2 separate regions of the Homo sapiens genome follow, and region 2 is reported to be linked to region 1. The links are microRNA targets in miRTarBase. Many come from high-throughput screens and were not tested one by one. Region 1 holds a microRNA gene; the other region holds the end of a gene's coding sequence.

What was found. The annotated mature microRNA hsa-miR-5007-3p reads AUCAUAUGAACCAAACUCUAAU and lies in region 1 at 2,500-2,521, opposite strand. An mRNA with a match to its seed (bases 2 to 7 or 8) in the 3' UTR can be bound and repressed. Matches are read on the target gene's strand: a 7mer-m8 pairs with bases 2 to 8, a 7mer-A1 pairs with bases 2 to 7 and ends in A, and an 8mer does both.
Region 2: miRTarBase lists DNAJB9 as a target of hsa-miR-5007-3p. Seed matches in the 3' UTR shown: 7mer-m8 at 1,799-1,805.

Annotation. Positions count from the first base shown.
Region 1 is chr13:55,172,617-55,177,029 of GRCh38, reverse strand. MIR5007 (microRNA 5007) reads right to left here and starts at 2,576; the gene lies at 2,482-2,576. All of the region lies in intron 4 of LINC02335 (long intergenic non-protein coding RNA 2335), which reads right to left.
Region 2 is chr7:108,572,516-108,576,928 of GRCh38, forward strand. It overlaps DNAJB9 (DnaJ heat shock protein family (Hsp40) member B9), which reads left to right. Exons shown (of 3, transcript NM_012328.3): 3 at 384-2,335. The coding sequence ends at 838. Among named protein-coding and RNA genes, the nearest start is that of DNAJB9, 4.8 kb to the left of the region's middle.

The DNA.
Region 1 (4,413 bases):
TATTCAGGAAACTTTAAGACAATGAGAATTTTAATATTAACATTACATCTTTGACACCTGAGGGAAAAATAAGATGTTAACATAAACTAAAGTCTCACAGAAACCACTTTCTGAGTAATTTCATTGCTCTCCATTATGCCATCTTCTCACAAACACTTTTTAAATTAAACAAAAAGAGATAAACATTATTGCCATGTTCTGTTAAATGGGATGTGTTGGTTAATATTGTATAATTTAAGAATTTTCTTACCCTTCAATTATATATTTGATGGTACTGTAAATTAAGACATGGTAGAAGACATTTTCAAATAAACAACTATTTATTATTGAAGGGAAGTGAGAAAACATTTTCAGTTTGATTAAAATTCATTGAGAGTCTAAATGTATAATACATAATTATCAATATACTTACAAATTGTGAAAATATACATTTGAGAATTTGTAACAGTAAAACCAGCCACCTTTTATTAAAGAGACTGAATATGTTAAAAGGCCCAAAGTTAAATTCTTTTTCCTTTTAGGATAGCCCTTACATTAATTTTCTATTTCTACACAACAAATTGTCACAAACTTAGTGACTTAAAACAATACCTATTCATTTTTTCAGTTTCCATAGGTTAGGATTCCAAGTACATGCTCATGTCCAAGAGGCTGCCTGCACTTCCCTGCCATGAAGCCCTTTCTGTAGAAATTTTCACAACCTCTCTGTTTTGTTCTTTAAGGTCAGCAAGAGAAGAGCTATACAACAATTTATTAAAATGAAGTCTTATAAGTGTATTGTAATCTAATCACTGCAGAGATACCCCAGCACGTTTTGTCATATTCCATTAAATGCAAGTTCCAGTTTTGCCCACATTCAAGGGTATGGTATTATACAATAGGTGACTTCCTGGGGGTTACACTAGAGTGTGTCCACCCACAGCTCAGATTGACTCACATATGTTTATATTTGAAAGGTTGCAATACTAAGGTTGTTTCTGGTATCATAGAATACTTAATAGCATTTACTCAGTATGACTCTTTCAATATCCCTTGAGTAAGTTACTAGTGAGTACTATAAATCTCCAAACCACATAACGTAAAGGAGTGCTCAGAATAGTAAATTACACATAGTAAATATGTAATAAATGTAATGTGTCAACATTATTATTATTTGTATGATTACTGATATATGCATTGGGTTTGAAGATCAGTGTGATAAGCCATACTTGAGTTTCAATGGGACCTGCAATAGATGCACTACAACAGAACAAATAATATGATTGGAGTGACAGAAAAATTAACAACCAAAGATAGATCAAAATCTGAGCTTCCTGATGAACTAGAAACATTGTGAATGCTTAGGTTTCTTGTAATTCTGTAGACTCTCAAACAGTGCTTGTTTGTTTAATTAGTTAATGCAGACTTGGTAGGTGGACTGGAAATGTAGTGACAATGAGTAAAAGATGGGTTTTTAGAGAAACATGTAGGCGGCATTGGGTATGTCTTTGGGATATGTCTATAGTAGGTGAAATTTTGCATCTTTTCTACAGACACTAGCGGAACCAGGAGAGAAGATAATTTCCCTATTATAGCTGATGTCAGCTTACTATTATAAGTAGAAAGGCATGACTCAAAGATAGACTAGTAGAAGAGGGGTATCTCATTAATTATGTCCCCAATAGCTATAATCACTCCTACTTAAAATTTTTTATCCTAACATTACTTTTTTTCTAAGAAGAAATGTTGATAGGCTGTGAAAATAAGACGATCACAAGAAAAAAATAACTCAAACCATCAAATTTACTGTCTTATTTAATGTCTAGCAATTCTTGCCATTTTCAGGGATTCTCTCCTACTCTGCCTTTTACATTGAAGAATATTTATTCTACGTTGTTAGTTCTTGGCTACTGAGCTTTTAGTTTTGACCATATTTATTCGTCGAATCATTAGTTATCACTGGGGTAGTAAGACTGGATATTATATAAACAGTGAAGAGACATCCCTAACAAATATGCTTGTAGAACTGGGGATAGTTAATTATCAGCAGGTTACAAGTGAGCTTAGTCTTTGAAGAATAAATGAAGAAACAAAAGTGAAAACATTGAGGAAAGCATTCCAGAAAGATGAATACAAATGTGCAAAACTTTGGAAACATGAAAATGCATGATGTTTTATAAAGAGAATTTTAGAAGAAGCTTTATGTCTGGAAGGTAAATGAGTTTTGAAGATTTGGCAGCCATGTGAGGCTAAAGGGAGAATCTGGGGCCAAAATATTAACAACTTGGGGGAGCTGAAAGTTTGCAAATATAGAAGTGACGAAGATCTACATTTTACAGACATCTCAGGAGATGAATTTAGGGTTGGTTTTAAATGACAAGAGTTCATTTAGAAAGATGGTACAGTAATACAGGTGAAAAAAATAAAAATTTAATTAAAAGAAGCATTCATCAGTATAAGAAAGAGAAGGCTGATTTGGAAGATATTTGAGGGATAATTTTTAACAGAAATTATTGACTAATTAGAGTTTGGTTCATATGATTTAGCTCTGTGTCAAACCATATCAGCCAGACTCTAATTAGTCACCAAGGTTTACCAAATCTCATGTCAAATTGTAATCCCCAGTCTTAGAGAGGGGTGTCCATTGGGAAGTGACTGGATCATGAGGGTAGAGTTCTCAAAAATGGTTAGGCACCACTGCCTCAGTGCCGTTCTCTGATAGTGAGTCAGTTATCACAAAGTCTGGTTGTTTTAAAAGTGTGTGGCACCACTCCCCTCTCTCTCTTCCTTCTGCTTCAGCCATGTGAAGTGCTGACTCCTTGTTTGCCACCCACCATGGTTGTAAATTTCCTAAGGACTCCCTAGAAACCAAGCAGATGCTGTCATACTTCCTACATACAACCTTCACAACCATAAGCCAATTAAATCTCTTTTTTTTAATAAATTACCCAGTCTCAGGCATTTTTTTATAGCAATGTGAGAATGAACTAATACACTGGCTAAAGAAGCAACATTTACCTCAAACTGCACTGCCCAATAAGATATTCTTGAGCCCGATGTGGTTATCCACTTTTACTTTATATTGATTAATAGGTAAATTTAATTCCTGAGCTGGCATGAAGGAATCCTGAGTCTCAGCAACTCAGGAGATTGAGGCAAGAATTTGAGACCCCCATCTCTAAAACAAAAAATTATATCTCAGTAGAAATAGTCAATTTTAAGTACTCAATAGCTTCATGTGGCTTGTGGCTACCATATTGGAAAGCACAAATAAACAAGATTTTCTTCCTTATTGAACGATCTATTGGACAGCAGTAATATAGAGTCAATTCCTGGTATCCTTTGTGTTTATCAGAAGAAACTTATGAAAAAATCCAATTGGGAAATAACATAATGAGATAAGTCATAAATTTATTATGTTTGCATTAAATGTGGGTATACAATTGTTTTCCACCACTCTTCTGCTTTTACCAATAATGCATCAAGAATATCTGTGTTCTTATAGCTTTCTATTGAGATGCAAAATTGTAGGCAAAATTCCTAAGTGATTATTTATTATCTGCAAGAACATGTAATATTTAAAACAAATAATGATTGCAAAGTTCTCCTCTAATTTATATTATCTAGTTAAATGAGAAATCTTATTTCCCATGCAATAGCTTACAAAACTATATAATACAAAAAATAGAGATTTTCCAATCCAATCTCAGTGTAAAATTGCATATTTTACTTCATATGTATCTGACAAGTGATTCTAAATATTATTACATCTTTATAAGCAATTTGTATAGTTTTTTAGGTCTGACTTTATTATATTTTAAGCTTCTTTACTCCATTGGTATTGATTTGTATGGCATTTTTATACATTTAGAATATAAAATTAATCACAAAGTTGTCTTATAAGTTAAAAATCCCATTTCCCCATTATTTATTTCTTCATTTACTTTGTTTATGATGTAAGTGTAGCCCCTTTAAAATGTTGTTAAATATATCAATATTTCCTTTATGATTTGTGGAATATAACTCTTATTTATGTATAAGATCACTCTTGCCTTCTAGTATCTTGATAGTTCTTATGTTAAAGTATGAATATTTGATCTCCCATTTATTTTTCTATAAATTTATTTTAACCTACTAAGTGGTAGAACATTAAAAAATTGTAGCTATATACAATTGTATGAAAAAAAGAAAAGCACTAAGATTTCTTTGTTTTGTTTTTGTTGTTGTTAAGTGGCAAAAAGTGGCTAAAAAATCCCCTAGACTTTGTATGTTTGCATGCAAAGGATAAGCAGTAGAAATCTAATGTTTATAATAAAATATTGGAATGATTCCAAATAAATTAAAGAAAAAGTAAGTAATATTTTTCTCAATACTATACTCAGGCATTACAATAAGTCAAAAACAGAATAATTTAAGTTTATTTTTTTTAAAAAA
Region 2 (4,413 bases), not on the chromosome of region 1:
TTAATTCCTATTAATTGGTTATAGTTGATGGTTTAATTTTTTAATACAATTAATGATTTCACACGAATAATATGAAGATTAAAGAACTCTGATTGTTGCCCACATGTTTATTTGTAGTAATGGTAACATTTAATAACTTTATTGAGTATTGCAGATGGCATTGTGCCAACTGCTGATAACTCAGCAGTTAATAAGACAGTTTCTGCTTTATTTTATAATTTTGATTAACTTGATGCTTATATTTGTAGTGTTTTGCTTTTATTTCTGATGCGAAATTCTTCCCTAAAATAATAGTATTCAGTTCACTTGCTTGAAGAGATTTGAATATATGTAATTTTGAATATTTTACCTTCAGTTACTAAAAATATTTTTGTCACTTTCAGCATATGAAACACTCTCAGATGCTAATAGACGAAAAGAGTATGATACACTTGGACACAGTGCTTTTACTAGTGGTAAAGGACAAAGAGGTAGTGGAAGTTCTTTTGAGCAGTCATTTAACTTCAATTTTGATGACTTATTTAAAGACTTTGGCTTTTTTGGTCAAAACCAAAACACTGGATCCAAGAAGCGTTTTGAAAATCATTTCCAGACACGCCAGGATGGTGGTTCCAGTAGACAAAGGCATCATTTCCAAGAATTTTCTTTTGGAGGTGGATTATTTGATGACATGTTTGAAGATATGGAGAAAATGTTTTCTTTTAGTGGTTTTGACTCTACCAATCAGCATACAGTACAGACTGAAAATAGATTTCATGGATCTAGCAAGCACTGCAGGACTGTCACTCAACGAAGAGGAAATATGGTTACTACATACACTGACTGTTCAGGACAGTAGTTCTTATTCTATTCTCACTAAATCCAACTGGTTGACTCTTCCTCATTATCTTTGATGCTAAACAATTTTCTGTGAACTATTTTGACAAGTGCATGATTTCACTTTAAACAATTTGATATAGCTATTAAATATATTTAAGGGTTTTTTTTTTTTGACAAATTCAACATTCAACGAGTAGACAAAATGCTAATTATTTCCCTGATTAGGAAAGTTTCTTTAAAAAACACGTAATTTTGCCTAGTGCTTTTTCTCTACCTGCCCTTGGGCTCACTAATATCACCAGTATTATTACCAAGAAAATATTGAGTTTACCTGATTAAACTTTAAAAGTTAATTGTAGATTTAAATTGTGTGAACCTAATGATTTTTGCAGTGAAACCTTTACTAATTCAAAGTTGCATGTTCTATGACATCTGTGACTTGCGTTGCAGAGTGTACATGAAACTGTATAATTGAGTCATTCAGTAAAGGAGAACAGTATCTTGGTTAATTGCTACTGAAAGGTTGAGAAAGGAATGGTTTGATATTTACCACAGCGCTGTGCCTTTCTACAGTAGAACTGGGGTAAAGGAAATGGTTTTATTGCCCATAGTCATTTAGGCTGGAAAAAAGTTGAAAACTTAACGAAATATTGCCAAGAGATTGTTATGTGTTTGGTTCCAGCCTAAAAATGATTTTGTAGTGTTGAAATCATAGCTACTTACATAGCTTTTTCATATTTCTTTCTTAGTTGTTGGCACTCTTAGGTCTTAGTATGGATTTATGTGTTTGTGTGTGTGTAGTTTATCCTCTCTCTCATCTTTATCTAGAGATTGACTGATACCTCATTCTGTTTGTAAAACCAGCCAGTAATTTCTGTGCAACCTTACTATGTGCAATATTTTTAAATCCTGAGAAATGTGTGCTTTTGTTTTCGGATAGACTTATTTCTTTAGTTCTGCACTTTTCCACATTATACTCCATATGAGTATTAATCCTATGGATACATATTAAAACAAGTGTCTCATACAACATTGTATGTGAGAGAAATATAAATATTTACAACCTGATATTCGTTGTTGTTTTATTGTTAAAAGTTTATTATGCAACTCTGGAGGTATAGAGGGCATATAAGCTATGGGACATATGCTGATCACAGGCTATATTCATGAAGTTACTTTTGACCAACCTGAAAACTGATAGGATTTTGTTTGTCATTTGGTAATTTCTACTGCATTCTTACCATCCTTCTCTCACAAATTTTGATAGCTTGAAGATCTTTTTAATTATAATTTTGTTGTATTTGTTTCCTAGGAGCAAGTGTTCCTGCTGCCAGTTCTTTCCTCTTTAGGCGTGGTTGAGAAAAAGCAGAAACTTTACATAAAGCTGTATTTCTTAATCATCTTTAATTTGAAACTTAAGAAAATGAATTTATTCTGTTATATTTATGTAACTTATTTCCTGGAAGTTATATCTACTAGTTTTGTTTGATAATAATAAAATTAGCTATACCTTGAATTTTGGGCTGAGGATTATCTGTAGCCTATTTTAAAAAAAATCAAGTTTTGAGACATTCCAGTAATATATAAAGCAGAAGAGTGTGGCTTGGGAGATAAATCAGAAAAACCACAATCAGGATGTCCTGGAGAAGCTTTAAGGATTGGATTTGGGTGAGGGTGCAGAATTCATTCATATTAATTTATTGAAGAACTGCATTGGAAAGCTCTGCTCTTAGCTACTCCCTCCAGGTAAACAGTTGTTAACAAAAGTAACTTTTTCCTCAGGCAAGGGACTAAACAAGTCTTGAAAGAATGGGGTTATTTGGGGGAAGACTTACCCATTGAGGGTATTAGGGTGTGAGGTGAAGGCAGAGTAAAGGTGAAGTGAATTTTCACTTGAAGGTCAAGGGGGTGCTGGTGAGAAATGGCAGCACTCCCAGAGTAAAGCCTCCTTATGTTGGCTTGGTGGGAAACAATTTCTCTGCATGCAGACCACATACTCACCTGTGGGTACCTGCTGGTTAAAAAACCCTGACAATTTAGCCGGGTGTGATGACATGCACCCATAATCCCAGATACTCTGGAAGCTGAGGTGGGAGGAGTTGAAGGCTGCAGTGAGCTATGATTGGCCACTGCCTGACAATTTACTGAGAACCATCGCTTCTATTCAAAAAGGAGGTCTAATGCAGACACATAACTGCTGAAGAAACTGCTTTTCTCAGCTATCTGTGCAATTTGATCTAATCCTTCATAAACACATACTGATGTCCAAAGAATGTCAGACATTTAAGGAAAACTGATAGCTAGGAAAAGAAGCCCCAATGATTAGCCCTGACAATGTAATTCAGAGATTGAATTTAAGATTCTAGTATCAGATTTTTTTAATAGAATATTGCATCAACAGATAAGGACAGTTCTTGTCTTAACCTGCTTACTTCAGGATTTCTTTAATGATGGTGTCAGAACAGATGAAGTAATGTGAACTTACATTTGGTTTACATTTACATCTAACAACCAAAGTCAATGGGAGGTAACAGATGTGTGGTACATGTGTTTCCTACCATGCAGGCCTACTTTTTCCTTTGAAATTCATATTCTTCCTCATATCTCAACTTTGTTACTCAACTCCCTCGCAAACTTCTCTCCAGAGGTTGCCCTAATGTGGAGCTACCTAAATTTATTGTGCAGTTCTTTTTACTGTTACTCATTATGATACACCGTAACTGGTGAGCAGGATGGTGGGGGTGATTACATTCTTATGGAAAAAGACAAGCAATAACCATATGAATAAATTATAAACTGATAAAGTATGGAAAAAAAATGTAGCACAGGAGAGGAGAATTGTGAGGGCAGGCAGGTTGAGGATGTGTTGCAATTTTTGACAGGATTGTCAGTGTTGGCCTCATTGAGAAGGTAAATTTGAGCAGATGCTTGAAGGGAATTGTTTGTACTGAAGGTGGAAGCATATGTGGGAAGTTGTAGGAATGGCAAAGAAGTGCGCATAACTGGAGGCCAGTGAGCAAACCAGAGTAGAAGGAGATGAATTCATAGATAAGAGGGGTTGAAAGCAGCCCTACAGATCACCTAGGGCCTTGCCAACCTTTGTAAAGGATTTGATTTTGGAATGTGATATGGTGGCTGAGCTTGGAGCAGATAAATGACTTGATCTTTAAATCATTTTAAAAGGGTCACTCCACGTGCTTTGTTCAGAATAGACAGAGGGGCAATGGTGGAACAAGGAGAGAGTTTGGAGGCTATTTCAGTATTCTAGGATGAGAAATTGTTGCAGCTTGTGCATCGCACGAGGGTGGCAGCAGTGGAAGTGGTAGGAAGTGGTTGGATTCCAGATGTATTCTGCAAGTACAGCTACCAGGATTTGCTTATGGATTAGATGTAGGTGTGAAAGACAGAGGAGAAAACTATGATTCTAAGCTTCATGTTCTGAGTAACTGGAAATACAGAGTTGCCTTTAAGATGGGAGAGGCTGCAGAAAGAAATTTAGGAGGAAAAATCAGAAGTTCAGCTGAGATATATCAAATTTGAGATGATGAGTAAATGGGTGGAGATATGTCTGAAGTTTGGGAGAGAGAGTGAAGC